Linked DNA regions of Homo sapiens. The protein of the gene in region 1 purifies or fractionates together with the protein of each later gene. This does not show direct contact. Each region holds a gene or a part of one and is shown in the gene's direction. Other genes may lie near its edges.

Region 1 (4,396 bases):
TATTGAACTGTTCCTCCCACTTGCATGATGGTTTCACAACACAGTTTAGTGGCTAAAGAATATGTGACTTGGAGCCAGGTCTGTGGGTTGGATCCCAGCTCTGTTACTTAAGAGATGAGACCTTGGCCAGGCACAGTGGCTCACGCCTGTAATCCCAGCACTTTGGGAGGTCGAGGCTGGCAGATCATCTGAGGTCGGGAGTTAGAGACCAGCCTGACCAACATGGAGTAACCCCCTCCTTACTAAAAATACAAAATTAGCCGGGCGTGGTGGCGCATGCCTGTAATCCCAGCTGCTCGGGAGGCTGAGGCAGGAGAATCACCTGAACCTGGGAAGTGGAGATAATGTTGAGCCAAGATGGCACCATTGCACTCCAGCCTGGGCAACAACAGTGAAACTCCGTCTCAAAAAAAGAGACTAGACCTTGGCAAATAACAGGGACACTATGCTCTCCTCATTTTAGTATGGGAACAGTAGTATTTTGATAGGATTACCATGAGGATTAAATTAGTAAATACAAAGAGCATACAAATGTTTACAGAAGTCACAGGGCTGTTAGAAGTCAGAATGGCCACCCTTGGGTGCAGACAGGAGAGGTGGTCTGAGAGTGATCAGAGGGAGCAGCAAAGACACTTCAAGATCCCAGAAACTGGCCCGGTGCGGTAGCTCACGCCTGTAATCCCAGCACTTTGGGAGGCCGAGGCGGGCGGGTCACCTGAGATCAGGAGTCCGAGATCAGCCCGGGCAACATGGTTAAACCCCGTCTCTACTAAAAATACAAAAATTAGTCGGGCGTGGTGGTGGGAACCTGTAGTCCCAGCTACTCCGGAGGCTCAGGTAGGAGAATCGCTTGAACCTGAGAGGCGGAGGTTGCAGTGAGCCCAGATCACACCATTGCACTCCAGCCTGGGGAACAAGAGCGAGACTCAGGCTCAAAAAAAAAAAAAAAAGTCATACTAAACAATGTCATAAATTTATATGAGACCGACCCTGGCCGGACGCCCCCGCTCCGCCCTTCCTGCGGGTCCGGGAGTCGATCCCCCACCGTGCTCCCCAACCCCCGCAGGCCACCCGGGGGCAGAGAGTGGGCGCAAGGGGTGAACGTTCGCTGCCTCCGATCCCGGGGGAAACGGAGCGCCGAGAACGTCGACGCCCTTCCGCGCCCGTCGGGCCTGGGACTGATACCCGGTCTGGCCCGGAACCCCCCAGGCGCGCCCCTAGCTGGGGCCCTGGCGACCGCCGCGCCGCAGGGGCTAGAAGCCGTCGAGACGCGAGCGCCATCGAGGCGCGCGGTCCTCCAGGCCTCCCAGAGCGGCGCAGCGGCCGTTTCCGGGGGCGGGGAAGGAACCGGAGCCTGAGAGCCGGGCGCCGTGCGCTCCTCCCCGCGCTGTCTCGGCGGCCCAGGGTGAGTCGGCCGCGGCCGCGGGGCGGGGACTGGGAGGGGCGCGGTCCTCCGAGCCCGGCCTGGTGGAGGCTGTAGCCCCCGCAGTGGGCGCGCGGAGCTCGGCAGGGAGCGGACCCGCAGCCGTCACTGTCGCCTCCGCTCGCCTTGGGTTCCGAACCCTTATCGGGGCGAAGGGCCCTGCGCCCCGGTCCATGCTGGCTGTGGTCGGGGGCGTGCGGCCGGGCCCCCGAGACCCGCTCCGCCGAGCCGGACGGTTGCGCAGAGATGAGGCTGCAGGCGGGGAGGCCTGGCGAGGTGGGGCTGCTCCGGGGAGGACCAGGCTCTGCCCCTCGCTTCCGTCCGATGGCGGGCTCTTCCCGGCAGCCTCGCTCCCCGGCGGACGCCGTTTCCCGCAGCGTTCATTTACCCTGCGCAGTTTTGCCCCCTCCCCGGGTTGGGGCATTTATTGGACCAACAGTCATTTCGTAAATAGCTGTTGGGTATTTAACTGTGAGCGTTCCGGTGCTGGGGACCCCGCAGTGAGCGAACAGCCCGCCTCGCCTCCAGGAGCATGAATTGTAATAGAGGTGAGGCGTTAGTGTAACAGGCAATAACGCAGCAAAATAACTTCTGGTTTTGACAAGGGCCTCGCACAGAATAAACCAAGGAAATAAAATTGTGAGAGTTAGGGGGTTAGGGTAGCCTTGGCGGTCAGGGGAGGCTCTGTAAGGAGTTAACATTTGGCCGTGCGCAATGGCTCACGCCTGTAATCCCAGCACTTTGGGAGGCCGAGGCGGGCGGATCACGAGGTCAGGAGATCGAGACCATCCTGGCTAACACGGTGAAACCCTGTCTCTACTAAAAATACAAAAAATTAGCCGGGCGTGGTGGCGGGCGCCTGTAGTCCCAGCTACTCGGGAGGCTGAGGCAGGAGAATGGCGTGAACCCGGGAGGCGGAGCTTGCAGTGAGCCGAGATCGCGCCACTGGTCTCCAGGCTGGGCAACAGAGGGAGACTCTGTCGCAAACAACAGCAACAACAAAAAAGAGTTAACATTTGAACTGAAACCTGCTGGAGGAGAGAAGCAGCCACAGATCCCTGAGGAGAAACTCCCAGGCGGGGGAACAGAGAGAAGGCTGGCATGGCTGCGGCGTAGTGAGCCGGGTGCCCCAGGTCCCCGAGGAACAGGGCTTATTCTGCGTATGGAAGGAGGTGACCCCTCCTAGTCTTCCAGACCCCAGTTAAATGAGTTCCCCCAGTAACATTTCTTGGTGGTCCTTCATCTAAAATTAGCACCCTCCTCCCCTTGACATTTTCTGTCTCAGCAACAGCTTGATCTGTTGTCATCATATCACTGCTCCATTATTTTTAGCTCAGTGCTGTTTAATCTGATTGAAGGTTTACTTCCTAATTCCGAAGATAGAACTAAAAGCAGGTTTTTTTCCCCTCTAACCAGGTAGCCCCTCCCTGAGGACATGCACTCCCTAGACATGAGCAAACACAAAGCAGCAGTAACTTACCGCTCCTAGTCCAAGTCCTACCCTAGTCCTGGGTTGCAGTTCTTACCAGAGTGGAGGGTGGTATGTGTTGAGGGGTCGGGGATCAAGTCTTCTGGCAGCCTCATACCCTGAGATACTCTGGTTGCCTTGTTGGGGTGAGGACAACACGTGTGGCCATCGCAGTGGCCCAGGTGGGTCCTGCCACAGACTGCCCTGGACAGACAGTGAGTGGGGGCTGGGTGGGGGTGGTGTGGCCCTGCTCTTCCATGCGTTTGCAGTCTGTGCCCTCTGTGCAGGGGTGATTCACGAATCTGTCTGATCCACCCCCATCGCCCTTCGTACCCTAACATGTCAAAAGGGCTCTGCTGCCAAATGTCACTTCATAGCATTGTGACCAAGCAGCCCTCCTGCCTCTAAACGCACTCTTTATTTTTATTTGAGAGAGAACCTCACTCTGTCGCCCAGGCTGGAGTGCAGCGGGGCACACTTGGCTCACTGCAACCTCTGTCTACTCAAGCAGTTCTCCTGCCTCAGCCTCCCAAGTAGCTGGGATTACAGGTGCGTACCAGCACACTCGGCTAATTTTTGTATTTTTCGTAGAGAAGGGTTTCACCATGTTGGCCAGGCTGGTCACGAACTCCTGACTTCAAATGATCCGCCCTCATCGGCCTCCTAAAGTGCTGGAATTACAGGCATGAGTCACTGTGCCTGGCCTCTAAACACATGCTTTTTGTTAACTGATGCCTAAAGGGAAACATCTCTTTACAAAGTGGCAGCTACTTAGACGGCTCCAGCTCTACAGAAATGGATAGCCCCGGAGACCTTCACCCAAACACAAGAGCTCAAGTGTCTGTTGAAGGGAAGAGTGAGGAGAACAGGGCCTCATGCCTACTCTGTATACGTCTGCTTAGAGCAAAATTATTGTTTTGTTTTGTTTGAGACAGAGTCTCACTCTGTCGCCCAGGCTGGAGTTGGTGGCATGATCTCGGTTCACTGCAACCTCTGCCTCCTGGGCTTAAGGGATCCTCCCAGGATGACCAAGGTTGCACCATTGCACTCCCGCCTGGGCAACAAGAGCGAGTTGTCGGAGTCTCACTCTGTCACCCAGGCTGGAGTGCGGTGGCGCGATCTCAGCTCACTGCAAGCTCCGCCTCCCAGGTTCACGCCATTCTCCTGCCTCAGCCTCCCTAGTAGCTGAGACTACAGGTGCCTGCCACCATGCCCGGCTAATTTTTTGTATTTTTAGTGGAGATGGGGTTTCACCGTGTTAGCCAGGATGGTCTCTGTCTCCACCGCACCTGGCCAAAAAAGTGTTAAATTAGAAAAATAGAAAGAGGCCGGGTGTGGTGGCTCACACCTGTAATCCCAGCACTTTGGGAGACCGAGGCAAGAGATCACTTGGGTCCAGGAGTTCAAGACCAGCCTGGGCAACATAGTAAGACCTCATCAATAATAAAAACTTTTAAAAATTAGCTGGGTGTGGTGGCATGCGCCTGTAGTTCCAGCTACTCGGG
Region 2 (3,809 bases), on another chromosome or scaffold:
ACGGCCCCACTGCCCGACCACCATACACTGCTGATGTGAACTCACAAGGATCCCTTTGTTATTAAGGAAGACCAAAGAATTGCATTAGGGCATCATTATCTCACCCACCAGCTACCAAAACCAACGTACTCATCCATCCGTATATTCTTCAAACACAGTCCTACCCTCAGGGGGCTCGGTGGAGACTAACCCACGATGAGTTCCTTGGAGACCACATTTGTGTCTCTTTATTACCGACTACTTATCTTGCTCCTGGGACATCTAGTGAGGAGGAGGTTAAGGGCAGGACTGACTGAAACTGGTCAGGAACCGAAAGCCCCAGGCTGGAGGGAGGTTCCAGTGCCGAGCTGTGGCTTGTACCACACCCTCTCCTTTTCTTTCTTACTTTTTTTTTTTTTTTTTTTTTTTTTTTTTGAGACCAAGTCTCACTCTGTCGCCCAGGCTGGAGTGCAGTGGCGTGATCTTGGCTCACTGCAACCTCCACCTGCAGGGTTCAAGTGATTCTCCTGCCTCAGCCTCCTAAGTAGCTGGGATTACCAGCGTGCACCACCACGCCCAGCTAATTTTTGTATTTTTAGTAGAGACGGGGTTTCGCCACGTTGGCCAGGCTGGTCTCGAACTCCTGACCTCAAGTGATCCACCCGCCTCTGCCTCCCAAAGTGCTGGAATTACAGGTGTGAGCTACTGTGCCCAGCCCATACCCTCTCCTTTTCTGCTCCCCCACAAATTCTCCCCAGTTCTCCTGCAGCCCCTCCAGTGAGCAAAGTCCTCACCCGCTCAACCCAGTTTCACTTGCTAGTGGAAAGTAACGTCTCTGTGGTCACATCAAGCCACCCTGGGCATGGCTGGAAAGTGCACTCATGCGAGACTCGCCTGTTTGAAGCAGCTGCTCATGGGATACTGCTATCTATATAATGTTATGTTATCCAATGTGGTAGCCACAAACCATATGTGGCTATTTAAATCCAAATCTAAGTTACTTTAAATTAAATGGAACCAAAAATTCAGTTTGTCAGTTACACAAGCCACCTTTCAAGTGCTCAAATACGTGGCTGCTGCATCAGAGAACACAGAAATAAAACATTTCCATCGCCGCGGAGAGTTCTACTGGTGATGCTGGGATGAAGATTTTAATCTAGGCCACCACAGCTACACCACTCCCTGCCCATCACAACCGTGATCATAACTGACTTGGGCCCCCAAAGCCTATTCCACCAGCCACCTCCAGCATTTTGATGAATACATATTACACTCTTAAAAGAGCAGACTTGCCCAACCCCGGCCTACAGAGAAACCACAATCCCCATTTTTCAAAAACATCTAATTGTACAATGTATTTTAGTGCAGGGTCTGGTTGGGCAAGATAAACATCGCCTCCTGATTGTAGTTTCACAAAGGATGACTAACTTGGCCTGAATTCCTCTGGCTCCCAAGATATTTCGACAAAACCATCAAAGGATCTATTTTCTACAACTGTACACCAGAACTCGGGTAAACACTGCGAGAGTACAGCAGTAGCAAGAGAGAATTGGGAAACAGTCGCCGAGTGAAACGAGGCAATTTATCGCCCACTTCCATTCTCACTCTCTCACAAGGAACCTTTACCAGTTTGGGAGCCTGTTTTTAAGGGAGGGGGAGGGAAACGGATCTGTACGGAGTAAATCCTGTTTCGCCAGTGCCTCCTCTCATTTCATCCTCAGAGCAGTCAGATGAGGTAACCGGGTGGAGAGGAGGGAAGGGGCCCTCGGGGGGCACTCTGCCCGGGCACTGGGCTGGATGTGTTGTACACGTTAGCTCATTTCCCATTTGATCCTCACAGCAACCCCCAGACAGGGAGAGACACACGCACACACAGAGACACGGTCAGGGCAAAGTCACACAATTTGTGAGCAGGAAGCATCGCATTGAATCCCAGCCTTTGCTCCTTTTACTGCACTTGGCCTCGGCGTAGGACCAAGGCCCTCGACTGAGTGCCTCTCCCTCCTGCGGCATTCCAGCTGCATGTCCCGCCTCCTCCTCTCTGCCCTCCTTCCACACTCCCTCTTCCATATCTCCTCCACTCTTCTCCTGTCTTCCCCGTGCTGCCCTTCCCCCTCCCCCGCCCCCTCACCCACGGCCCTGCACTCCAGGCTCCCTGGGTCGGGGGTGAGGGGCACTTGCTTCTGCTGCTCGCCGCAGCCATGAGAGCACCCTTCCTTGCTGGTCGGCGAGATGACGAGCCAAGCTGTGACTCGGGCAGTCGGTCTGTTTTTGGCTTCTCTCAGCTACTTCTTTGGAAGGTTTCCACTGACTTCAGGGAGAGTTCCAGAAGAAGCAGGGGGTGTCGTAGACAGCACAGGCTTGGGGTTGGGATAAGGAGTGTCAAGAATCTTGGCCTTGCTGCCAACCACTTATGTGACCTTGACCTAATGACAAAACCTATGTGGGCACCAAGGAAGAGGTGTGAATAGACATGGGGATGAACCACTAGCACGGGACCTGCAGGTGGGTCTCAAAACCTGCCCCGGTCAGTTCAGTGTGGAGGAAGGAAGTAGATGACACCCGATTAACACCTTCTGGAAGGCAGGCATTTTTTCATCGCCATCTTATCACATTTTTACAGCGACACTACAAGAAAGTTCCTAACCTGCATTCACAGATGAGGAAATCGAGCCCCAGAAAGGCTATGTGGTCTCCAGATCACAAGGAAGCAGGCATCAGAGAGGACTCAAACCCTGGGCTCTGTCTATCCGTTGAGGGCCCTTATTCCACCCACAGCACAAAGAGCTGGCAACAGGACGCCAGTCAGCACAACAGTCCTGGCCGCACACACACACTCCCCCATCTCCACCGCTCGCAGGCAGCAACAGACCCCCACAGAAGGGGCAGGCATTGGCCAGGCACGGTGGCTCACACCTGAAGTCCCAACACTCTGGGAGGCCAAGGTGGGAGGATCTCTTGAGCCCAGGCGTTCCAAACCAGCTCGGGCAACAAAGCAAGACGCCATCTCTACAAAAGAATTAAAAATTAGCCAGGTAGAGTGGTGCATGTCTGTAGTCCCAGCTACTTGGGAGACTGCAGGAGGGTTGCTTGAGCCTAGAAGGTCAAGGCTGCAGTGAGACATGATGGTGCCACTGCACTCTAGCCTGGGTGACAGAGTGAGACCCTGTTTCAAAAAAATTCAATTTAATTTTAAAAAGAAAGGGGCAAGCATCCAGTCTCGTGACATCAGGGCATCACTTAAATGGGACTGTACTGTTAAACCAAAATGTGGCCACGAAAATACCGACACATACAGGTGTTACATACAAAGGCTAACAAAATCACTTTCCCTTTTTCTTCTTCACTCGCGCCTGCTCTGAGTTAATTCACTTTCATTCAGCCTTGCCGGCACTGGCTGCCTTCTTTGGGCAGCAACACCCTGGACAACACCATCCTGGGCCCCTCAATCCTATGATCTTCAGCTTCCCTCTGAGTTAGAGGCATTTCGGGTCTAGGAACAAGCCCTCTGGGCTTGGAGAAAACACAAGAGGTCTCATTCCTACCATCTCCATGAGAGAAATCCATACACGGAGGGGGAAAAAAAAAAAGCCCTCTTTGATGTTTGCAAAGAGAGTCATAATATCTCCCAGAGCCAACATCTAATGATTCAGAATCATTGTTTCTGGGAGGCAAAAAATAGAAAGAAATATATTCTCTTTTCATAAATTCAATAACCTGATCTTGTGAAAAGAAAATGTAAGTTTTTTCTTTTTTAAATGGCACCAGCAGGGTCCACACAGGGTTACAATCCAGGATTTTTCCTAGTGAGGAGACTCTCCGGAGGCCTC

What was found.
Region 2: the proteins of ZNF517 (region 1) and LIPC purify together in Homo sapiens (affinity purification with mass spectrometry; one large-scale study listed by BioGRID and IntAct). This does not show direct contact.

What each region holds. Positions count from the first base shown.
Region 1 is NC_000008.11:144,797,533-144,801,928, forward strand, and holds the start of ZNF517 (zinc finger protein 517), read left to right. Parts: upstream 1-1,380; 5' UTR 1,381-1,405; exon of another isoform or gene 1,406-1,955; coding exon of another isoform or gene 1,956-1,971; intron 1,972-3,323; exon of another isoform or gene 3,324-3,440; intron 3,441-4,396. UniProt on the Homo sapiens protein: May be involved in transcriptional regulation.
Region 2 is NC_000015.10:58,550,441-58,554,249, forward strand, and holds part of LIPC (hepatic triacylglycerol lipase precursor), read left to right. Parts: intron 1-3,809. UniProt on the Homo sapiens protein: Catalyzes the hydrolysis of triglycerides and phospholipids present in circulating plasma lipoproteins, including chylomicrons, intermediate density lipoproteins (IDL), low density lipoproteins (LDL) of large size and high density lipoproteins (HDL), releasing free fatty acids (FFA) and smaller lipoprotein particles.